Regions from separate parts of the Homo sapiens genome. Here all the other regions are reported to be linked to region 1. The links are microRNA targets in miRTarBase. Many come from high-throughput screens and were not tested one by one. Region 1 holds a microRNA gene; each other region holds the end of a gene's coding sequence.
What was found. Region 1 holds the annotated microRNA hsa-miR-34b-3p (CAAUCACUAACUCCACUGCCAU, at 1,744-1,765, opposite strand). A microRNA usually pairs through its seed, bases 2 to 8, with sites in the 3' UTR of a target mRNA and lowers its output. Matches are read on the target gene's strand: a 7mer-m8 pairs with bases 2 to 8, a 7mer-A1 pairs with bases 2 to 7 and ends in A, and an 8mer does both.

Region 2: miRTarBase lists LIPG as a target of hsa-miR-34b-3p. The part of its 3' UTR that is shown has no 7-base or 8-base seed match.
Region 3: the mRNA of JAG1 is a reported target of hsa-miR-34b-3p. The part of its 3' UTR that is shown has no 7-base or 8-base seed match.
Region 4: the mRNA of STYX is a reported target of hsa-miR-34b-3p. Seed matches in the 3' UTR shown: 7mer-A1 at 2,019-2,025 and 7mer-m8 at 2,577-2,583.
Region 5: the mRNA of TMED5 is a reported target of hsa-miR-34b-3p. Seed matches in the 3' UTR shown: 7mer-m8 at 2,087-2,093 and 7mer-A1 at 1,755-1,761.
Region 6: miRTarBase lists ZC3H8 as a target of hsa-miR-34b-3p. The part of its 3' UTR that is shown has no 7-base or 8-base seed match.

Annotation. Positions count from the first base shown.
Region 1 is chr11:111,510,660-111,514,751 of GRCh38, reverse strand. MIR34B (microRNA 34b) reads right to left here and starts at 1,814; the gene lies at 1,731-1,814. It overlaps BTG4 (BTG anti-proliferation factor 4), which reads left to right and starts at 2,366. Exons shown (of 5, transcript NM_001367975.1): 1 at 2,366-2,571. MIR34BHG (MIR34B and MIR34C host gene) reads right to left here. Exons shown (of 2, transcript NR_147706.1): 1 at 3,880-4,092; 2 at 864-1,734. It overlaps MIR34C (microRNA 34c), which reads right to left and starts at 1,313; the gene lies at 1,237-1,313. RefSeq lists an enhancer at 3,511-4,092.
Region 2 is chr18:49,590,134-49,594,225 of GRCh38, reverse strand. LIPG (lipase G, endothelial type) reads right to left here. Exons shown (of 10, transcript NM_006033.4): 10 at 1-3,725. The coding sequence ends at 3,704. Among named protein-coding and RNA genes, the nearest start is that of LIPG, 30 kb to the right of the region's middle.
Region 3 is chr20:10,636,133-10,640,224 of GRCh38, forward strand. JAG1 (jagged canonical Notch ligand 1) reads right to left here. Exons shown (of 26, transcript NM_000214.3): 26 at 1,552-3,823. The coding sequence ends at 3,366. Among named protein-coding and RNA genes, the nearest start is that of MIR6870, 12 kb to the right of the region's middle. RefSeq lists enhancers at 598-1,394, 1,395-2,191.
Region 4 is chr14:52,770,862-52,774,953 of GRCh38, forward strand. It overlaps STYX (serine/threonine/tyrosine interacting protein), which reads left to right. Exons shown (of 11, transcript NM_145251.4): 11 at 172-4,092. The coding sequence ends at 245. Among named protein-coding and RNA genes, the nearest start is that of GNPNAT1, 19 kb to the right of the region's middle.
Region 5 is chr1:93,150,946-93,155,037 of GRCh38, forward strand. TMED5 (transmembrane p24 trafficking protein 5) reads right to left here. Exons shown (of 4, transcript NM_016040.5): 4 at 1-3,943. The coding sequence ends at 3,725. Among named protein-coding and RNA genes, the nearest start is that of TMED5, 27 kb to the right of the region's middle.
Region 6 is chr2:112,227,668-112,231,759 of GRCh38, forward strand. It overlaps ZC3H8 (zinc finger CCCH-type containing 8), which reads right to left. Exons shown (of 9, transcript NM_032494.3): 8 at 3,236-3,283. The coding sequence ends at 3,251. It also overlaps a transcript of FBLN7 not described here. Among named protein-coding and RNA genes, the nearest start is that of ZC3H8, 25 kb to the right of the region's middle.

The sequences.
Region 1 (4,092 bases):
CCCTCCCCCCGCCCCGCCCCTGCCCCGCCCCTCCGAGAACCGCCAAGTTGGTACCAGCCCCTGCCGGCTGCCCTCGGTTTCCTAGGTAGGTGTTGGGATCCGCCACGCGCGTGGGGGCCGTCGGAAGCCCACCCCTGCGGTGATCAGGTTTTAGGACCAGTCCAAATCTTGGATATGGGAGAGTCAAAACGTCAACTTTGGGTTGTGTCCTGTCGGAGTCAGTGGGGGAGTAGTTTAGCTTCTTATATCCTCAGTGGGCTGCCACATCCTCTCCCCTCCCCCCAGAAAGATAGCTAAATAAACTTTAAATTCCTCAGCCCCATTGCCCCAATCCCCACTTCCAAACCAGATTGCCAGGGACAGCACCTGCTAGGTGGAAGTTCTGAGAACGTTGCGCTGGAGAATTCACGCCTGAAAGCCTAGCCCTTGGGAGCTAGAGGCCTGAACTGGGCGGATACGTGCCCATGTGTACAGTTTCTGTGATTTTAAAATTCTGAATCCTTTAAATCTTAGGAAACAAGCTGGATTTAAAGTGTAAGTGCATTTACTAATCACTCCCACTAAAAGTTGCATAGACTCCAACAGTTGTAAATGATTACTTAAAAGAAGGGATACATCTTAATGAGTGAACAGAGTCTCTTCATGGAAAAAAGAAGTATGAAAAATTTTGTTAATGTATTTCTTATAAAAGTATTAACAAGTCTGTGTGTATGAGTAGCTTTCCCGGGAGATTTTTGTCATGGCAGGAACAACTTAACCACTTCATTGATAGAAAAGTTAAGATTACTGTGGCAGGAACTGAGATGGACATCATAAAGTCAATTTAGCAAAGGAAATGGACACATAGCAATAACCACAATTTATGTCTTTATGGCACTTTATTCTTTCGAAATATTACTAACAATATTACTTTCAAAATATTACTAACAATATAGTCTCAAGAAGTTAATAATCACATGTTCATATAATAACATACATCAGTCAGCTAAGAAAAAAATCATATTCCCCCTTATATCTAAAATTTTGGTTAAGAGCCTGAAGGAATATTGAAAAAAAAACAAAACAAAACCCCACATACATACACATTACATACATTGTAAACTTAGTAGCTGAAATGTTGATTTTTTTCTTTTGGCTGAGCAATTAATAGGCAATGGATGAAATCAGCATTTTCCAACACCCCTCTTCCCCACGCACATTGATGATGCACAGGCAGCTCATTTGGACGAATTCCCAAATCTTTTTACCTGGCCGTGTGGTTAGTGATTGGTACTATTAGCAATCAGCTAACTACACTGCCTAGTAACTAGACTCATAGAAAAAATTGCAGTCTCAAGTTGGTACCCCAACACGTTGTGACAGGCAGGCAATTCATTGGTTGAGTTGGAGCTCAACTGAGTTGCTAGCTTGGTGAATACTCTACTAGACGATGGCAAATAGACACAGTGAATCACAGCATACAGTATTAACCGTTACATGGATGGAGGGGCTTCACCTCCAGGGATTTTGCTTTCCTGGCATGAGACTGTTTCATCTTCTGTGACTCCTAGAGAGAGCTAACAGTTTAACTGTATCTGGAGAAACCGCGGGTTTCCTCGCACTTGCAGCGGGCGCTCGCGGGGCAGGCTGCGCAGGACCCACGCCGACGCCGCGCTTCTCAGGCATCTTCTCTCGAAGGCTGCGGGCTGCCCGAGCCGGCGTCTTCTTCCCGGCCGGGCGGCGGTGATGCTGTGCCTTGTTTTGATGGCAGTGGAGTTAGTGATTGTAACCACCACAGTACAATCAGCTAATGACACTGCCTACAAACCGAGCACCGGGCACCCGCGGCTGCAGCTCCCGGACGGTCCGCAGCGCCGACGCGGGGTCGGGGCCCGCCTCGGACCCCATTTCACCGGGGGACGCCCTACCATGGCTGGGCGCAAGCGGCCCCCGAGGACACCCCCGGGCCCAGCGGGACCCCCGCCGGCCTCGCAGCGCACAACACGCGTAGCTGGGCCAGCGGGCGGCGCTGCCGGGGAGGACCCGCGCCCTCCCAGGCCGGGAGCCGCGCCCCGACCCCCATGACCCCCAGGAGTGCCAGGCCTCCCCTTCCCGCAGCCTCCCGCTCCTCTCAGGGCCCTCCCGCTCAGGTTCCCCTCGCTTTTCCTTTCCCCTTCGCCTCCTCGGCCCGGGCTCCCACTTCCTTCACGCCAGGCTTCAGTTCCCAGCCCCAAACCCTAGAGCTGGCTCTCTCGACCCCGTGCGCCCCGCCGCTCTGAGCGGCCGAGTGACTGTGGCGGGGGCGACCAACCGTCCTTGGAACCCCGCGGGCCGAGGGGCGGGGCGGGCGCGAGACGGGGCGGGTGGGGGAGGGGATGGGGGGGGGGAGGAGGCTGAGAGAAAGCGCTGTGGGCGGTCCCTGAAGGGCCTCCAAGGGAGACGCCTAGAAGATGGAGGCCCAGATTCTTGAGACGTTTCTCTTTCTGATCTAGCAGGAGGGACAAAGAGCTCCTCCACTCCCTCATTCCCCAAGAAGGCCCCCAGCCTACCCAGTTTCCGTGACCATTCCGCCCTGGGAAAGCGGCTTCCCAGGTACCTCAAATTATAGGTTTGAATTTTCCAAATGGAGGTGGGCTTGGGTAGCCTCTGACATATGGGAGGATGGCTTGGAGAGTCTCATCTGCACCTCTGTGCTCTGTTGGGGACTTGGCCTTATACTCTTAGAGGGCCATGCAGTGATGTGAAGCCTGGGCCTTCTAGTCAAATAGTGAGCCAGGCAGCTTGTTAGTTACATCAAATCGTGGTCCTCTTGAGATCAAGGCCATACCATTCAAGACAGTATATATATAATAAATTACTAAACTAGGGACTATTTAGAATAGTAGAAACTATTTGTATCAGAAATAGAAGGGAGGTCCTCAATGAGAGCTGTAATAGGTCAAAGAAGGTTCCCAGAGGAGGTGAGACTTGAGTAGATCCTTGATGCACGAGTACATTTGGATATTCAGGGTTAGGGCTGTGGATGCCAGAAAAACAGTATCTTGTGACAGTTGGGCAAAAGGGACAGTTACAGAGGACTTCTGGGAGATCTCTGCTAATAACTTTCCTTCCCCTCCTTTGCCTTTAATGAATTAATCAGGAGAGGATAAGGAATGTTCTCTTTATCCTCACCTTGTGAAATTCAGCTGGAAGCAGCCTCCCCTAGAAATATGGTCTTCATGCATCCAGTATAGAGCACCCATTGCTGACACCAAAGGCTTAGTTCTAAATTAGTTTCTGCAAAAGAAAACTTCCCACCTATAGATTGATTCCCTAAAACCAGCAAATGGTCTCATAGATGCCACAAGTAACATGAACAGGGGCAGGTCATCTGGATCATTCAATACAAACTACAAACTCACACTATTAAAACAACTAAAGAACTGCCCAAGGATGTTTGAATAAGTTATAGCATTTTCTTTGCATATGAAAGACAGCACTTTTTTTCCAAATGCATACTTTGTTCTGTACACCCCATAGTGAAGGGAAAGAAACCAAAATACAAAATATGTAGCACAGAAAATGTTAATTGTAAAAATTAACTCGTAGAATTAAATTGTGAAAGACAAGCCATCTACAATAACTGTATTTTGTATTCATCTTATCTTTGTGAGGGGCACGGTGTTTTAGCACACATTACATAAATGACTCACATTCACCTAAATATACATACATGAAACTAGGAGCAAAATAGTCTTCATTCCATTAACAATATGCAGACTTAGAGAAATCTTGGTTAGGAGATAGTTATAAAAATGATTCTCTTCTACCAAATTGTTAGTCACTTTTACCCAATACTATATCGAACACTTCTTCCCAACTGATGTTTTATGATTATTAGTTGCATCTTAAATATCTTACCTGAGCTGGATTGCTGCCATCCAAGGCAATGGTTGGGTCAGATGCCTTGAAAAGTAGGTTTCTACAGACTTTTCTTCAAAAGTAATAAAAAATAAAACTCATATGTAAAAGTCATGAAGATGCATTGCCTACTGAAATAACTTTTTAAAATGAGTTTATTTTCTATGTAGTACAACTAAAAATTTAAATAACGACAAAAAATATGTGTGGCCT
Region 2 (4,092 bases), not on the chromosome of region 1:
GAGGCGGAGGTTGCAGTGGGCCAAGATCATGCCCCTGCACTCCAGCCTGGGCTACAGAGCAAGACTCCATCTCAAAAAAAAACAAAAAAACAAAAAACACCAAACGAAACAAACAAGATTACAGCTAGACAGGAGGAATAAATTCTAGTGTCCTATACCACTGAAGGGTAAAACTAGAGTTAATAAAATATGGTTTCAAGTAACTAGAAGGAGGATATTGAATGTTCCCAACACAAAGAAATGATACATGTTTGAAAGGATGGGTATGCTAATTATTCCAACATGATCACTATACCTTGTATGTATCGAAACATCACTATTTTCCCCACAAATATGTACAATTATTATATGTCAATTTTAAATAAATAGTAATTGGATCTTCAGCAGGGCCCATGGGCACCCTAAATAAAGACTGTATTTCCCAGCCTGTCATGTGACCATGGATTTATTTCTGGCCAATAGAATGTAAGCAACTTCTCAGTCATGTCTTTAAGAGGAGACTGTTCATCCCTTCCCTTTTCTGGCTTTCCATTGGCTGGTAGGGGACCCCTGGGCTGTGGGGATGCGAGGAATACCCCATGAATGGCACAGTGAAAAACTAAGAACCTGCAGCCCTCTTGGCCTGTAGAATAGAACCTTACTACCAGCTGGGACTTTAACCAATAGAGAAATCAGCTTCCCTCTGGTCTAAGTCACTGATATCTAGTTCCAATTCAACCAAACCTAATAATCTCACTAATGCTCCCCAGTGTCCAGCCATGCTCCCTGTTCTTCCTAACATCCACCTTCAGGCCTTCAAGCTGCTACAATTGAAATAATTTTTCTTCTCGTCTTCAGTGAAATGATGTTCTTGTTCTGGTTCTTTAGTGAATTGCTGTCCACTTCTGCTAACGATGAGTGTCAAATAAAGAATATGCCTTATATTAGAGTAACTTTTTGTCAGACTCTAGGTTGGGGCAGCTATATTCTTTCAAACTTTAAGAATTGGCCAGGCACGGTGGCTCACACCTATAATCTCAGAACTTTCAGAGGCTGAGGCAGGCGGATCACTTGAGGCCAGGAGTTCGAACCCAGCCTGACCAGCCTGGCCAACATGGCGAAACCCCATCTCTACTAAAAATACAAAAATTAGCCAGACATGGTGACGCATCTCTGTAATCCCAGCTACTCAGAAGGCTGAGGTGGGAGGACCACCTGAGCCCAGGAGGCAGAGGTTGTAGTGAGCCAAGATTGCCACTGCACTCCAGCCTGGGTGACAGAGAGAGGCTCTGTCTCAAAAAAAAAAAAAAAAAAAAAAAAAATTGAGTTGTCAGACCATTAAGAACTTTATAATTTTTTATTATTTTACTATTTAAAAATTTTAATCTTGAAATTGGTTAACCTTAGGTAAACACTAACCATATTTTTTTATATACATTATATACACGAGAAATAAATAGTCTTCCAAATAGCATTTTTTAAAAAGCATCATTATATACAATTAAGGCTTCAAGCCAGGTGTATAAATATACAACTCACTGAGAATTCAATTTGCAAAGCTTCCATTAGTAAAAACAGAAGTCAGAAGTGACCAGGATGTACAGCCAATAATATGGGTTGAGCAACCCTAATCCAAAAATCCAAAATCCGAAATGCTCCAAAATCCAAAACTTTTTGAGCACCAACAAGACAAAAAATGGGAAAACCCCTCACATAAGTTACCACAAACCATGCTTCATGTACACAACTATTTAAAATATCGTATAAAATTACCCTCAGGCTATGTGGATAAGGTGTAACTGACACATCAATGAATTTTGTGTTTAGGCTCGGGTCCTATTCCCAAAATATCTCATTATGTATATGCAAACATTCCAAAATCTGAAAATAATCTAAAATTTGAAACACTTCTGGTTCCAAGCATTTTGGATAAGGGATACTCAACCTGTACAAGCTTCGCTTTGGCTAGAAAGCAATCACAGAAACAAGAGAAGCACACAATTGGCTTGAGAACATATCTTGAAATAAGACTCAACTGGTTATGTCTTCAGAAGTTTAACAGTGATACAACTTTGGCACGATACAGATTAAAACAATGTCCTTAGAAAACCTAAGTACAAAGAAAATCATTCTTCCTCTCCTGCTTGGTGTCACACTTCCTCCCGAATCTCAGCCATAAAAAGTCCAACCGTTGGCACAGATGTTCTCCTGGTTATACATTAATAAAAGGGCTTAGGATTTTATGGATGGCTCTATATAAAAAAAAAAGTCCTTGTTTGTCTCACGTCTGGGGCATATTGGTGGGAACTGGCTGCAAAAGTCTTCATGGAGTTTCAGAGATAGACTTTGCCTCCAGGAAATCTGAGTCCTCTCCCTGGCTGCACCACTAACTAGTATATAAGTCTAGGCATGTGGCTGAACCTCACTAAGCCTCAGTTTTGTAAAATAGGGATAATAATAGTTGCCCTTCTCCCCCTACTCTAATTAGGCAATGCATACACAAATCTTTTGAAAAGTGTAAGTGTCTCAGATATTGTGTGTATTAATTCAAATCAAGATCTAGAATTGGTGGCTTTTCCAAGAAGTTCAACAAGAAAAGGCACTGGTATTAAAGTAAAATATTTCAAAGAGGAAAAAAAGCACTGTATTAAATCTTAGAACCAGCTCTGTCTGGCAGGTGCCGGTTTCTGTGTACACAGATGTGTATTACATATGTCATAACTTCTATCTCTCTAAACAGAAGAGATTTGCTCCAAAGCAGTTATATCTGGCAACCGGCCATCATTCTGGCCCCAGCATGAATGATACTCTGCTTGCTATTCTGCTAGTGATCAAACACGTCACTCATAGGGGAGGTGGCACATAATAACTAAGAAGGTGGCACATAATAACTAAGAAGAAATAGAAACCACTTAAAGCCTCAGGGTCCCTAATGCTTATATCCTATAGCCTCCCCCAGGCCCCAGGTGCCTTTCCCCATGCATATACACATACACCATCCAAACAGAAAGAGGGTCTAGAAATCCCAACTCCACTGGGTTCCAAATGGAGAGGCTCAGTAATATGTCCATTACCACATTCTAATTAATTTTAAGTGTTCAATAGACATTTGCTCAATTAAAAAATGAACAGAAAAATAGGAAAGCCAATGATGTGTGCTTCAGAGAGTGAGCTGGGGAGCAGGACGGAATGGCTAAGACGTAAGCAGTATGGTCAGTGCAACCCATGAGAACCCCAACAGCTAGGGCCCGAGCAAGATACCAGGCCTGCCATCCTGACATGAGTCAGCTCCTGTCGGAAGGACTTCTCACTGAGGCTCAAAGCAGGCTGAGCAGCTGACAGCCTTCTACACAGGGCCTCTTCGGAGCCAGCGTTCCTCGTCAGGCAGAGTACAGGCTCGCCCAGCAACTGAGAAACCAATCCAGTGTGCACGAGAGGCCCCAGGCACCCAGCTGCTTACACACAAATCTGGACTTGGTGCTCTGGAGGTGTGGACAGAGGTTTGGAGTTAGAGCTATTCAAGAGAGGCAGCAAGAGCTATAGCAGCGCAGTCCCCTCCCGCGAGGAGTCCCAGCCATCACAGGAGACCAGTTGTTCCCAGTGCTCCAGGGTCAAGGCTGAGAAGAATCCTTCCATTGGGTGGGTCCTCAGCAGTAACTTTCCTCCATGGGCTTGGATAGCAGGAAGTCTTGCTGCCTTGCTGGCAAGACTTGCCCGGGCACCCTCAGGGAAGCTCCACAGTGGGACTGAAAGAAACCGTGTGAGAGTGGCATTTGTTAGCTCACACACCAGCAAACGCGCAAACCTGTATTCAGGGTGTGCTCTTTTGACCTTAAGGCCAAGCTTTCTGACACCCCTATGGGACTATTTTACATGTATTCCTTTCAGAATAAATGGACAAGGTCCCGAGTGCTGCCTTCTCTCCCTAACCTGACAAGCCATAGATGCACTTTGAGAAACACCACACTGCAGCACCCTCTGGACCCTGAGTTGAGTACATCACAGTTCTTGCATTTACATATTATCCACCCACAACATACACACACACACACACACACACACACACACACACAATCATGGACACACAAGTGTGGGGAGAACTATCAAAGTGTC
Region 3 (4,092 bases), not on the chromosome of region 1:
TCCTGGAGTTTCATGGGATATTCTAATGCTAGAGTTCTAGTTAGCCAAGTTTCTGGACTGAAAATTTTTTCTTCCAGGGCCCCTTTAAAGAGAGCCCAGGGCGTTCCTGGGGAATGAATGGTAAAGGCACTGAGTCCCTTCCTCTCAACTTTCCTAACCCCAGGATAACCAGAGCACCATTGCCTGCTTCCTTCTTCCTGAAGGAAGGGGAAAATCCACCCTTCACAATTAAAGTCCTGGCACTGAGCCACATCCAGAGGAGGCTGATCTATGCCCTCCCAATACCAGGGGTGTCCCAGACAGAAGGTGAGTTAAGACAACACCCATGAATCCCAAGATCCCTTCCCTCCTGGAATAAAGAATTGCAGAGACTCATTCAACTTTTTTTTTTTTTTTTCTTGGCACAAAAGCATCTGGCAGCTACCCAAGGAATTCTGGGGTCCTGCAGAATCCAAGTTTACAAACCACCAGAACAAGGTTTTGCTTCAGGATAGTGTTTGACTCCACTGCTGCGAAATGACTGTCTCCTGGCTAGTAGGATCTAGATTTCTCCCTCCCTTTGACCCCACCTTGTGGAAACCCAGCTGTCTACTGGCAGACATTGGTGAGAAAGCGGAGCTACGCTAGGGCAGGGAGATGTCATGGAAACCTCAACTCTTCGCTGTCCGGGTCCTTCAGGCCACCTCCCCAATGAGCCAAAACAGTGTTGGCCCTCTTAGGGTTGTCACAATCCCAAATCCCTCGATGGCCTCTGCTCATGCACAAGGATCCCAGGACACTTAAAGCTCATCTTTCATTCTTAAGATGTTCCTTAGCACAACTCCAAGCCTAGAAGAAAAAATGTTTCCCCGAGAACAAAGAAAAACATCCCCATCAGCTTTTCCTCCATTCAAAGTCTGCTGTGCCAGTTGTATGAAAACCGGACGTGGGTGGACAGGCCTGAATGTTGAAGTGCTGGGGGATGGCTCTGAGAAGGGTGAGCTTTGGCTTTCCTAGCCAGAAGCAGAGTCCTGGTGACTCTGCACGGCTGCTGGAAGCTGTCCATGTGCTTGTTACCACAGCTTATTCCTTCCGCAGAGGTGCCAGAGGCAAAGCTTCTCCCACACCCCACCACGCGATGCGGGGGCAGGGCCTCCACCAGCCACAAGTGAGAGAACCAGAGTTCTCCTGCCCGTGACAGGTGGGGACAGCCCAACTCTGGAACCTCACAGAAGACCAGAACACCAGCACTCCAAGGCTGCATGGTGAGGCCAGAACACTCATTCCCTGGGAACAAGGTGATGAGTGATGAGCCCGAACACCAGAAGCTTGCAACTACCACCTCCTGTGCCGTGAGGAAACCACCCCATGGGTAAATGTGCACAAGAGTCATTTCAGACCACACCCTTACAACAGGACATTAATATGAATCTAAGTAGCCAGGGAAAAAAAAGAGGCAGACATTAAATCTCCCTGCTCGTTTCCCAACACCAATTCCAAACCCTTTAAAACCCTTTCAGTGCTGTGGCCAGTTCCCCTGATTGCTCACAAACAATTCACCTCGACACTACAGGCCATTAATCCAGTGGTGTTTATTCAAGCAGTATTCACACTTGCTGTTGAATAACAAGGGAATCAAGGCTCCCCTAGATGGGGCTCCCGCAGTTCCAGCTTCACAGCAGCCCCAGGTCTTTGAGAACTCCAGATGAGTTTTGTGGTTGAAAAGCCTTTCAGTTCTTCCTCCATCCCTCTGTCAGGCAGAGCCTATTATACCCCGATTACCAGAACAGACTCAGCAGGGTGGCAGAAGCACATGGCAAAGCCGGTAGAACTACGTAAGCTCAGAAGAGGCCACACTGTTCCATGTTTTCATACAAAAAAATTTAATAAATATTACTTTTCAAAATTTATTGCCAAGAACAACACATCAAAGATGCATTTGTATGTTCATATAACACTAATAGGACAATACAAAGTATCTTCACGGTCTCAATGGTGAACCAACAAGATTACTCTGTTTTATAAGCCTTTTTGATCTTGAACTTCGTAATAGCACTTTGATTTCCTCACTTAAGGCAGGCAGTGTACTCTATGGCAAATCTAAACAGTGATCTTACTGGACATTTTATGGTTCAAGTATTCAACTAGCTTATTAGAATACTCCCTAAATGCAGTAGATTAAAAAAAAAAATCAAATCTACAAGTGGTTCAGTATTATGTACGAATGGTGAAAAGAAATCAGAATTTACAAAGTAAGATTGGTGTGCTTCCAAGTTCACACAATTAATTTGATATTTTTAATCATATTCAACCACTCACATTTTGGCTATGTTAAGTCATAGCTCAACTTGTTCCCTTACTGCTCTGCAGCAGATCACCTGCCTGTCTCTTTTCAAGTCTAAAGCAGAAAAACAAAAAACAAACAAACAAAAAAACCTGTTCTAAACTAATCCTCAAACTGCCTCAGTCAGTCCTTAAAACGTGTTTTAAGTGATGCTATAGAAGGTGTTTTAAACATCTGACGTCGTACAAAAAAATTCCATCAGTATTCTGGGCACAGAAGCCCATCCTATTGTTTTAAAATAAACTATTTTCAAACACCTTAATTTTGGCTTATAGGCAACAAGTAATGAGAAGAGTTCAAAAAAATAAAGCCATACGCTTACAATGCTATCAAAAACCTTCAATTCTAAACACATACATATAAATAAAAAGGAATGATGTTTTAAGGCTCTTGATTATTAAGTTAATAAATCAAATATACACAGTGATTAATAAAAAAGAATTATTTACATAACTATACAAAGTTCTACTTTTGACATTTTTTTCTTTAAATTCTTCATTTTACCAGCAACTGCTGACATCAAAGTCTCCCCTCCCCCAACAACAAAAATACAATTAAAAAAAATAAATAATAAAGTCATTTGTGATCGTTGCTGTGGTTCTGAGCTGCAAAGGCACTTTCAAATACAGAACTACTTGTACGTCATCATAAAACCAATATACAAAAACAACTCAAGAGTCAATAAATATAAATAAAACTATGATCTAAGACTGCATCACCATTAGGACATCTGGCAGAAGTGGGAGCTCAAAGACCAGGGGGCTGGGCAGGCTCCTGGGAGCCTGATCCGAGACCGTGTCGGCTGCAAGGGGACACACAACCAGGGTACTGTTGACTAGCTTTTTGCATAGCTGTGAGATGCGGCACTCGATTTCCCAGCCAACCACAGAAACTACCATTGCCAGTGTAAGCCAGCTTGTCAAAACTTAAATTAACACAGGGATTCTAAGTCAGCAACGGCCTCAGACTCGAGTATGACACGACAGTTTAAAGAACTACAAGCCCTCAGACTCTACCTAGCGGCGGCAGTGCCCGCGGTCTGCTATACGATGTACTCCATTCGGTTTAAGCTCTGGGCACTTTCCAAGTCTCTGTTGTCCTGTTTGTTTGTCCAGTTTGGGTGTTTTGTCGGCGTGCCGTTGGGGGGCTTCTCTTCTCTGTCTACCAGCGTGTACGCCGGCTGCTTGGCAAACCGGGCTTTCTGCTGGTGTTTGTCCATGTCGTCCTCTTCTACTTCAGAATTGTGTGTCCTTATTTTAGACATTTTGGAGTTCTTGTTCTCATAATCCTTGATGGGGACCGTGTTGGCCCCATGTTTCTCAATGGGGTTTTTGATCTGGTTCAGCTGCTCCCGCACGTTGTTGGTGGTGTTGTCCTCAGAGGCTGAGTGTGTGTGGCTGCCCGGCTTCCGCCGCTTCCGCAGGCACCAGTAGAAGGCCGTCACCAAGCAACAGATCCAAGCCACAGTTAAGACAGAGCTCAGCAAGGGAACAAGGAAATCTGTAAGGCAGGCACAAAACCAATTAACTCTCCAAGAAAGAAAGAAAAAAGCATCATCGCAGGAACAAAAGAATACCAACAGTGGTTCTCCTGCCCTTTATCCCTAAGAGGGGGGCCACAGGGACAAGTCCCTTTTCATCATTGCATATGGTCACTTCACAACTTGATAAGCAAATGCTGGGATCAGGCCCCTGTAGACCTTGATACTCTTATCCCTGGAGAGACTGGGTGGAGCGGCAGCTCCTACAGGCTCTTTGACTTCGCATGGG
Region 4 (4,092 bases), not on the chromosome of region 1:
GTTATAATATTTAGGTAATTTATCACAAAGGAATTTACTAAATTTTGCTATATCAGTTGTGGAATTTTCATAGTGTATACATGATCACTTAATAACAAAATTTTACTTGCTGTAACCTTTTAACATGAATTTATTTTAGTGCCCTTTTAATCTTCATGCAATAACTTTTAGGCAGTTTGAAGAGAACACATGAAGAAGAGGATGATTTTGGAACCATGCAAGTGGCGACTGCACAGAATGGCTGACTTGAAGAGCAACATCATAGAGTGTGAATTTCTATTTGGGAAGGAGAAAATACAAGAGAAAATTATAATGTAAAATGGTAAAAACATAAGTAGTTTTTTTTTCAATTACATGTTGCTTCCAGACATACTTCTCTGCAACTTGTTGAGCAACATTTTAAGATGTTGGACTTCTGCAATAGATGACACTGATGGTTTTACTCCTTTTTTTAAAAACACATGCGCGCGCACACACACATGCTTTACAAGTTTTATTATAAACCAAGAATTTTGGACTTGCAAAGAGGTATTATTGCAATAATGCACTTTTCATACTTGAAATTTATTTGTATGATATAAAGTTATTACTTTAAACAAAATGCAAGTATGGGGGGATTGTTTATAAAGTTTGGGTAATTTATAACAAAATTTGCTAAGGTTTGCTAAAAATTCATTTTTCTGTTCTATATATTACATTTTTAACATAATTTTACAGTTCAATTTTATGATGGAGCCTCTTACAGAAACATTAACAAAATGCAGGAATCTGCCACATTTCTTTTTTAGTATAACTTAATAGCTTAATTACCATTTTATTTTTTATACTTCTTCCATTATTAATCTTTAAATCATGATCCTAATTAGCTGTCCTTACTTTAACTTGATCTAATTATTGCTTCCTTTCTTATTACTTTCCTAATTTTTCTATATTTTAAAAACTACAGTTTCCATGATAAAAGGAAAACGTTTTGATTTATAGTACCAAGTGCTTAAACACAAGGATAGTGTTAGATTTTCGAGTGACTTTCCTTTTTGCATTTTTTGGCAGTAAAAGCCAAACGTTGTATTTGTTCTTTTCAGAGTTGTCCAGCCCTTTTTTCCTTTGTCCAAAATGATTCTAAATAGAATCTAATAAACCAATGTAGCATTATTTTTTTCTAAATGAAGCCCCAAAAAAGAAAAGTGCCTTGCATCATTTAAAAAAAATAATTAAATCCTCATGGCCTCTAAATTAGTATGTAGAACACTGAAAAGTTCTTAACATTTTTGTGTAATTTCCTTTCTTTTTAAACCATAAATTAGTTTAAACTGAAAGTACGAGGCTGGAAGAAATATTAGTAAATTATTTGGAATATAGAATGTTTACTCTTTCTTTTTATGTTGTCTTAATGATTCTGTGAGATTGTTCCGGCTCAAACAGAAGCTTTTCTTTGGGGAAGGTGATTTGTGGGAGACTAGTGTATTTTAAATTAGCATTTTAATCCATTCTTGACATTCAGTTAGTCCAGATCTGCCCCATAATTTGCTTTAGTAAAGTCACTTTATGGATTTTTGGCTATGTTTTAGTTTGTGTGTATAAAAGTTCTAAGAAAACATTTTTGCTATTTTAAGTATGTAAGGGAAGAGAGGAGTGTTTTTAACTTTTTATAGTTGATGACTTTAGGGTAGCACAAACAAAACTCCTTTGTATCTAACTTTTCTCAATCCTCTCTTGAGGTGCTTTACTAATGGGAATGATTTCTGTATGTTCCCTTGGTACCAAGAGGTACTATGCAAAGTAACCTATTACACCAAGTTACTTGCTTTGCTTTCCTCTCTATGATGTGATAATACAGTAAAAGCTTTCTTACCCAGCATAGTGGGAGAGTGGAGATTAATTAAAATTGTTAATTAAGAGTTAATTCCTATTGACCCAGGTGATATTTCTCTTCTGATTTCCCTCCCCTTCCCTTCTCTTATCTTACCACTGTGAAAACAGCATATTGTTAATCTCGTTGTCGTCCAGTATTCTGCTTTGTGATTAGGTCTTTTGATGTACAGTGGTCTAGTGGAGTCAAGATTCGCATTGGGTTTTCTAAAATTCCAGTTGATAAAAGTTCCAGATAACACAGCTTTCCTGTATATAGATCACTATTGGGCAGGTCAGCAAAGATCTCTTACAGTGTAATAATAATCTATGATGCTTCATTTAGCAGAAACTCTGCTTAAAAGAATCTTCATAATAGTAAGTTTAGGTTTTAAAAACTTGTTTCATAAATATACATATATCCTCTCTAGTAGTCTGGCCAAAAGAACAGATTTTGTTATTGATAATTTGTAGCTGGTAATTTTCCACATTTTCTATCCACTGTAATTTTTATGTTGTCACTGAAGTGCCTGCCCAGTACTGTATATTACAGTCTCTCACAAACACTGGGAAAAGGGACTGTCATCATCTTGAGTACTCTGTGTGTATATATATATATATAGATAGATAGATTTTTTTTTTTTTTTGAGACAGAGTCTCTAATGTCACCCAGGCTGGAGTACAGTGGCACAATCTTGGCTCACTGCAACCTCCACCTCCTGGGTTCAAGTGATTTTCCTGCCTCAGCCTCCCAAGTAGCTGGGGTTAGAGGCACATGCCACCATGCCTGGCTAATTTTTGTAGTTTTAGTAGAGATGGGGTTTCACCATGTTGGCCAGGCTGGTCTCAAACTCCTGACCTCAAGTGATCCACCCACCTCGGCCTCCCAAAGTGCTGGGATTACAGGCGTGAGCCACTGCGCCTGGCTGAGTACAATATTAATGTAGACAAACCATGAAGTTTATTATTTCATATAAGAACATTACAGGTTTGTTTTTTCTTGCATGTCTGTCCACCTAATGTTTAAGTAGTTCTGGTAGCTCTTCCTATTCTTTATTCTATTTGATTCCATTTCTGTGATTCTTTTATTACCACTGATGTTTTGTGATAGTTAACTATGATAAATTTAACTGATCATGATTTATCTTCTAGAGTATTTAAATAATGTATGAGTGACCACCCAATTCCAACATTAAAAGTGTAATCTGGGCCCATAATTTATAGTGAAATTGTATCAAAACATAGGGAAACTGTATTACTGTCCATTTTGAAAATATGAAACTTGAGTATTGAAAATATTCAAACATGGAATGGCAGTATTCTAATTTCAGTTAGTTGGTTCATGTTAATTTCTTACCTGTTAGATGTTTAAACTGCAGTGACCTTTACTTGTATCTACTCTGTGGTGGAAATGTTAAACCATGATAGCTTTTGCTACCAACTCAACCACTTAACTTTTAGAGCAGTTTTGGGGAGAGTTTATGCTTCATCTGAGTTTAGAAGTAATGTCAGAAAATGTTAAGCATGTCTGTATTAAGAAAATATAAGGTTTCTAATTGTCTTATTAATATGGTAATTCAAGTGAATTAGAAATATTTAACTGCAATCTTGAATTATAAAGTTGAGATATATATATATATGTATCAAGATCTCAACTTGATGTAAAGTAAATGAGCAGTTACCTGGCGGATTTTTTTTTTTTTAAATAACTGATTTAATCCATAATCCCATAACAAACATAGCTTCACCTCAGTATTTTCTTTCTTTCTTTGTTCAACAGTGCTCCGATAAGGGAATGCTAGAAAATAGATGAGAAGTACTGAAAGACCTTTTTTTTTAATTGATTAGAAAAGTAAGTCTCTAGGGTCTTTGAATGCTGGAATTTTTTTTTTTTTTTTTGTCTTTCCCATCTGTGGCAGCTAAAACAAAAATCACTCAAAATATTCAGGTTTACATGTTAGCTCTCTCTCATAGGGAGCTGCCATACCTCACAGTTCAAAGTGTATTCTATAGATCAGTAACATTATACTGACATGTAATTGCAATTTACTATGCAGCAAAAATGATTCAAGAAGAAAAATAACCTACAGTGTCTGTATACCTTTGTATACACAATTGCTTAAGTTACTCTGCTTTTAACATTTGTACTTGGATAAAATGCTTATGTCTGTATAGGAATGTCACAGTGCAAGATGCTGCTAGCCCAGGCACAAAGTATTAAAATTATTTTGTGAAGATTGGTGG
Region 5 (4,092 bases), not on the chromosome of region 1:
AACACAAGTACTAAAACGAGGGTTTTTGTTTGTAAAACTGTCAATTAGGATTTTAATTCATGGTCAGTGAAGACCTTCAGGATTTTCCCTGCCCTGCATTTTCTTGCCTTTTTCTTTCAGATGCAGGGATCCAGAGTCCATCTCCATTGTGCCCTGTCTTATGTAACATCATCCTAGCTCTAGATTCTTTAATTGGTGTCCTTTCCCCAGACGTACATTAGGTGTATGGCTCCAGGTTATGACAACAGCCTTCCAGAAGCCTTAGACACCTGAAAGTGATAGCAGTGCAGAAGCAGAAAGGTGCCTAAGGATTTCTACCAGCTTGTGGTAGAAGAGTGGCTTGTCTGGATGGTTTGAGGGAAATGACCAAATAATAACCTACCTACACCAAGCATTGTACTTTTCCTATATGCTAACAAGTTTTAAGATGTTTCTGAACAAGTTTTAAAATATTTCTGAAAATGAAATAGTCTCAAAGGAGTTTTGATTTTGCAAGATCACTTAGCAAATGATCCAAGGATAACTGACAGGATTCTATATTGTGTTGGTTGAAAATTAAGAATCCTGAGCCATATTCCAGACCTGAATAATCAATTTCTGGGGTGAGGTGGAGCAGGTAAGTTCCCTGGGTGCTTATTTAGCATACCAAACTTTAAGAACTGATTATCTTTCCTTTCATATATTTTGAGCAAAAACTGTACCTTTTAGGAACAGTGCATGTTTAGGCAACAGGTGAATAAGTACATATAGAAACAGAACTCCAATGCAAAGTAGAGTGATGTACAATAAGAGGTGTAGAGAGCTATGGGGTTTCAAAACAGGAGGAGAGAGCACATTATTAACTAAATAGAGATGAAGGAAGGCTTTCAGGAGTAGACAGCATTTACAAATGACTGGCAGTTAATTTTCTTTGATAATTTTTATTATATACATATCAGTACTCACAATACGTTGCTTATTTAAGATGGCTGTTTATAAGTATAAAGCAGTTTGAGCAACACTGATTGTGCATTATTGTACTTCAGATGAAAAATCCTTACATGTGGAATCAATGTCTTTTAAAATTTCAGATAAAGAATTTTCATTTGAGGAGACATACAATTGTAAGTGCTCATTTTTTGTCAATTTTAAGACACCATTATGTGTAAGAAGGATTAATTTTACCATAAAATTACAAACACCCTCCATGTCTTGACATTCACATGAAAGAACAGCATAACATTAATCATCCAAATGCATATCAGAGCAAACTCTAGGCCTTAGTGTGAGGTGAACACGGTAACTGCTACATTATGGAAATCGGTTGGGCCTTAGTTAAATATTGTAGTATTTTTAAAATTTGTATATTGAAAAAGACAAAATGAGCTGTTAAGTGATAAACAGCTTACTCAATTTAGCATAACTTTAATTTAGAAATGGAATAGTGAAATTAAAAAAAGCATATGAAGCAGATAAACAGTATGTCTTTAGAAATATTAAAGATTTTTACTCTGTTTACAAGTTTTGCTTTTTTGGTTATGCCTCTTAAATATCTGTCTTTTTACTTTGTCTATAAAAATAATTGTCCTTAGTATTCCTAAATTCTTTTCCAAATAAAGCAATTATCGTTTTTATATGGTAAGAAGTTACTGAATCATAGGTTTAAGATCAGTGGCACAAATCATACATGTAGAAGATTATGTAACAAATTCATTGTTAGGTAAGGAGTCAGAGAGTACAGTACAGTAACAGCCATACAGGAGAGGTAGAATTCTTAATCACAGTTTTATAGAAAAGATGCAGTAGTTTATATCTGTACCCTGCTTTATTAGTTATGGTACTGTAAATTTGCTTCTCATTGCAAATTTAACAGCGCAAAAGGGAGGGGTATTCATAGGCAAGGATCTTATTGACCTTTGTTCTGCAAGTGTTGCAGAGGATACCCCTAGACACCTGAAGCATTTTCTTGGCCAATTAAGGTAATTGATCATATACGGCATTTACCTCATTTTTAAAAACCTTGCCAGTAGGGAAATCTAAGCTGCTCTTCTCCCAGGGGCCTAAGAGGGAAATGTATCTCTTTTTATACTACTATGAGTGTAAATGAAATCACTCTCTGGTTATCATTATTGCTCATCAAGAATTCCAGCATTACTAACCTGTTGAGGGGTTCTATACCCCAAATTTTAAGTTTGTTTCTAACTCACAATGTAGTCATAAACAACGTTATAAATGGGCATAACTTAAAAATTATAGTTCATTCATGATGAAGTTAAATTACTAGTACTTGAGTAAGACCCCCATAGACTTCAAAAAGCTAGATGGCAGAAACTTTGTTGTATATATGGGTTATTCACATTTAGGTGTTTAAAACTTGGGAGTCTATGTTTCTAATCCTTACTTCAACATCAATAAATAAAGTGTTCAGAAAGGCCATTTTAATAAAAGTTGTTATAATAAAAATTTTTAATAAATATGTACACCCAGTGCTAAACCTTACAGTAGGGCTTACATTTTATAAAATGTACCTGCTTACAAAAATAATTCAAACCAGAATTCTTGTAGAAAATAAAAACCTACAGCCAAAGTTTCTTCCAGCTAACTGGAAATTAATCATCTCCTTTGATTTATGTTATGAGTAGGATGTCATGATGAGCCAGTCAGATTCTAGATATTTATTTATAGTTCTACTTAAGTGAATTTTATTTTGGATTAGGTTTTCTCAAGTTTTTCTAAATTCTTTCCTGTTTCTGATAATTCTTAGAGCTCAGAAAAGGAGATATTTATTTATGGTAGGCCCAGATCATTTTAGCAATATTTCCTTCATAACTGCTGGTAATAATGAATTATCCAAGTCAGCAATCATGTTAAAATTAACATAACATGATTATTAACTGTTGACAGATATTAACTTGACAGATACTATTAAAAATAAACTTATTTTACCTCACATTTAATTTTAAAATCCTACACTTTAGTTAAGGGTTAGAGAAAATGTGTCCCTATGGAGGAGGAAGCTTTTAAACTATATTCTTCATTTCAAAGAGAAAACATGTCCTAATTTTAGTAAGTGTAACTTTGTGTTTTTAAGAATCGTGAAAATGTCAGCTTTTGGGAATGTAAGCAAAGTACAAAGACTAATGCTTTCTGCTAATATGTTACACTGAAATGTATTTGGTTATAAAAATCTCAAAAACCTAATTGTATTTCAAAGCTATTATTCTATTTACATTATAGGAGAGATGCATATGTAAATAGAGAAAAGTTGGGCTTTTGTAGTCTAAAGATTTATTCAATCCATCATTAGGTAATTCTCAGGTGATTTATAACTTAAAACTGAAAACTTCCACAGTTAATTTGTAACTGCCGCATTTACAAAAAAGTTCTGGGTAATAGAACCTGTTAAAAACAGACTGGTGTTGCAATTAGGCCCAATACTCATTTATTTAAATCACCTAAGACATTTGCAAAATTTTTCAAAGTTAGGAAAATGCAGTTATTAATATGGCTTCATTCAGTTAAACCTATATTCTGCAAAATATTCCTGTTACACACTTAAGTACAACTGGATCAGCAGGATTACTTGCACAGAAAGTGAAGACTTAATTTTCACATTAAAATTATACCTGTTTCCTACTTTTATATCTCAAAATATTTTGGAGAAGACCATTAATGGTCTTGACTGTAACAGTTTATTGCATTTTTATGCCTCATTTTTCAATGTTACGTACTCTAGTTTGGAGTTTTAAGTTCTACTTTTCCTCTTATCTTCAAACAGACTCTTCAGCATATAAACTTGAATGGCTGACACCACCACCATGACCACTAAATTAACCATAGACCAGAAATTGACTCTATCAAAGTTGCTTTCTTGTATGTTTCGATCACGAGCTTCAAATGCTCTAAGCAGAGTTTGTATGTGCCCACTTTTGCTTAGTCTGGACTTGATGCTGTTGATGGATTCCTGGAGATAAATAAAATAATTTTATTATTAAAGAATGCTCAGAAATTTTAACTTAATTAAAAAATGAGGCTGGGTGCAGTGACTCATGCCTTGTAATCCTGGAACTTTGGGAGACTAGGGCAGGAGGACCCCTTGAACCCAGGAGTTCA
Region 6 (4,092 bases), not on the chromosome of region 1:
TTCTACATACTACCAATGAACAACTAAAAATAAAGTTTAAATTACAATTCCATTCAATAGCATCAAACAGAATATGTACGAATAAATTAACAAAAAAGTGTACACTGTACACTTGTACAGTGAAAATTACAAAACTGAGAGAAACTGAAGATCTAAATAAATGGAGAGACATTCCATGCTCACAGATCAGAATTCTATGTGCAATTTTCCACAGATGCAATGCAATCCCTATCAAAATCTCAGCATGGGTTTTTTGCAGAATGTACAAGCTGATCTTAAAACTTATATGGAAAAGCAAAAGATCCAGAGTAGCCAAAACAATCTTTGAAAAGTAGAACAAAGCTAGACAGCTTACGCTTCCTTATTTCAAAACTTAGAACAAAGCTATAGTAATCAAGACACTGTGATAGTGTATAAGGACACACATATAGAGGTCAATGGAACACAACTAAGTACAGAAATAAATCCATACATTTATAGTCAGCTGATTTTTGACAAAGGCATGAAGGCAAGTCAGGGGGAAGGGGCAGTCTTTTTTTAAAATGGTGCTGGTGGCCAGGCACAGTGGCTCACCTTTGTAATCCCAGAATTTGGGAGGCCAAGGTGGGCAGATCACCTGAGGTCAGGAGTTCAAGACCAACCTGGCCAACATAGTGAAAGCCTGTCTCTACTAAAAATAACAAAAATTAGGAGGCATGGTGGTACACACCTACAGTTCCAGCTACTCGGGATGCTGAGGCATGAGAATCACTTGAACCTGGGAGGCAGAGGTTGCAGTGAGCCGAGACTGCACCACTGCACTCCAGTCTGGCAACAGAGTGAGACTCTGTCTCAAAAAAAAAAAAAAAAGTGCTGGGACAATTGGACATCTACATGTAAAAAAAAGTTTTGCCCTTAACTCACACAATTCCTAAAAATTAACTCAAAATGAATCATAGACATAAACACAAGAGCTAAAACTAGAAAATTTTTAGAAGAAAACATAAGAGCACATCTTGTGACTTTGTGTTAGGCAATAAATTCTTAGATACAACACGGAAAGCATGATCCATAGAAGAGAAAACTGATAAACTGTACGACATCAAAATGAAAACTTTGATGCTTCAAAAGATACCATTAATAAAATAAGACAAGCCACAGATTGGGATATTTGCAAATCATGTATCTAATAAAGGATCTGTATCCAACATACGTAAAGAACTCCTAAAACTCAATAAGAAAACAATCTAATTTTAAAATGGGCAGAGATCTAAACTGACTAATGGCCAATAAGCACATGAAAAGATGTTCATAGTCATTTGAGAAATGAAAATTACAACTACAGTGAGATACAGCATCACTCCTACTGGAAAAGCTATAATCAAAATGACTGACAGTAACAAGTGTTGCTACGGTAATTAAGATAGTATATACTGGAGAAAAAGACAAATGGAGAAGAACTGACATCCCAGAAACAGACCTTCAGATCTTCACTTGATGGAAACTTGACATATACCAAAAGGGGTATTACAGGTTAGTGGGGGAAAGAGCAGTCTTTTTAATTAAATAATGCTTGGGAGATTGGTTATCCATGTGGGAAAAAGGGAACAACAACAACAAAAATAAGAATGATATGAGGCCTCTATCTGATACCATTTTAAAAAAGTCTATTAGTATTATTTTTTCTTTTCTCCCTAGAGTTACAGTTATACTCTTTTTTCATTCATTCTACCAGTTCCTCCCACATGTAAAGTACAAAAGGTGGAGTACAGTTTCCTTCTCCTTGACTTTGGGCTTGGCCATATGACTTACTTTAGCCAATGGGTTATAAGTAAATGTGCTGTAAACAGGGCTTTGCCCTCTTGAGTTTCTGCCAACACCATGAGAAGAACATGCCCTAGCTAGCCCACTGGTCCCAGGAGAGTTAGATAAGTATGGGCAGAACTGACCCAGCAGATCTGCCATATGAAACAGTGCCAACCCAACCAAGGCCAGATGAGATCAGCCAACTCCCAGCCAATCTATATATGCATAAAAAATAAGCACTTTGTGTTATTCACTACTGAGAACCTTGTAGTTGTTTTTGCTAAGCACCATTACTGTACCAACTGTTAATACAATTCCCAATGGATTAAAATATAAACGTATACAGCAAAGCTCCAAAACTTAAAAAAAAAGTTAAATTACTTTACAGCCTCATGACAGGGAATAATTTCTTAAATGAGACACAAAACACAAAAGTAGGCATAAACAAAAAGATTCCCAAAATAAGTAATTCTACTCACTGAGATGCCGCAAAAAAAAAAAACAAAAAACGAAAAGACCGTCCACAAAATGGGAGAAGGCCTGCCACACATACCTCACAAAGAATTATATAAGGAATATATAGAAATCAATGTATAAAGGACAATCAGACCAATAAAAACATGGGCAAAGACATTAACAGGCATTTCACCAAAGATGAAACTCAAAAACCAGTAAGCATAAGAAAAGATGCTGCACTTCATGCAAATTAAGTTACGAGATTCTATTTTTACATCCACTAAATTGGTTGAAATTAAAGTATTGACAATATAAAGTACTGGCAAGTGTAGAATGACAGTTCTTCTACACAGTTTGTAGGAGTATAAACTGGTATAACTACTTGAGAAAAAAACTGATATTATATTAAATTTTATGATGATATGATTCTACTCCTTGGCACATACTGTGGATAACTTGTGCACATTCATGCCAAGAAGTATGTATATGGATATTTACAAGAGTTAGTATTTTTAAAAATTGAAAATAACCTAAATATTCATTAATAGTAGAATGACCAAATAACTAATATAAACATAAAGTGAAATGTTATATAGGAGTAAAAATGAATGACAGCTGCATGCATCTACACGAATGAATAATGTTGGGTGAAAATAGCCACGTCATCAATTAATACAGAGAGTATGATACAGTCTGATAAAATCCAAACATAAGCAAAACTAAATATATTGTTTTGTGAATTATACGTATTTGGTAAATCTACAAAGAAACACAAGAGGAGAATAAAAATATACCTGATAGACAAGCCCACACAAGGAAGCAGGCTGATGTAGATCCATATAGGTATGTAAATATATCAAATATTTTATAATTCTTTTTTAGTGGCGGAGGAAGAAGAAAAATACTTCTATTTGAGAACCCTATTGAGGTTGCATGCCAACTTCTGGAGATGTTCAGACAAGAAAAAAAGAAATGTGGTAAATTCTAATTTTACCTTTTTATGTCTATTTTATTTACATGACTTCTTTTCAGTATCCAAAACCTAATATAAAAAAAAAATCACATAATCATTTTTATGCATTCATGTGTAATTCAGGTATACTGTCATATTCATAACTTTCAAATGATTCCAATCAAATTCATCCTAATAATCATCTAATATTATTTACTACTACTACAGGAACTGAAAAACTTATTTCATATATATCACTTTTCCATATCTATTTCACACAAATAAACAACTAAATATTTGGTACAACTTCTAATTCCACATTAACCATTCATATTTTACAACCTAAAAATATCTATAAACAAGCACCTTTGACTTTGTAATATTTACATATGCTCAAGGGAACATTTTGCCAGAAGATCGTATGGTTGGCTTCAAAAGAATCTTTTAAATTTTCATGTATACTTAGATTAAATTTTTAAGAGACTAGCTCCAACTAACATGAGAAATGAAAGAATACAAATGACTGTAACTTTTCAATAACCTTTTCTCACAGACTGAAAGAATATCTGAAGAAAACATTTTGAAATTACTACTTAACTATTATTTGATGTAATTCTAAAATGTTTATAAACCCGTAACTTGTAACTTTCCTTCCAAGAATCTTTATAACAGGAGTACTATTTTTCTTATTTGATTTGCTTTGTTTAGCTTAGCTTAGCTATTAAAATGGCTAATTATACTGAAGATTTTACATCTTTCCAACTTAAATCAGCAATGAATATACATCTTCCTTTCAGCTACAAGGAAACATATACAAATGAAAAATATTTAAACTGAATTCTTAAGTTATTAGTCCTAATATATCCCATATGCTAACCTAAGAGGCACTCTCCTTAATT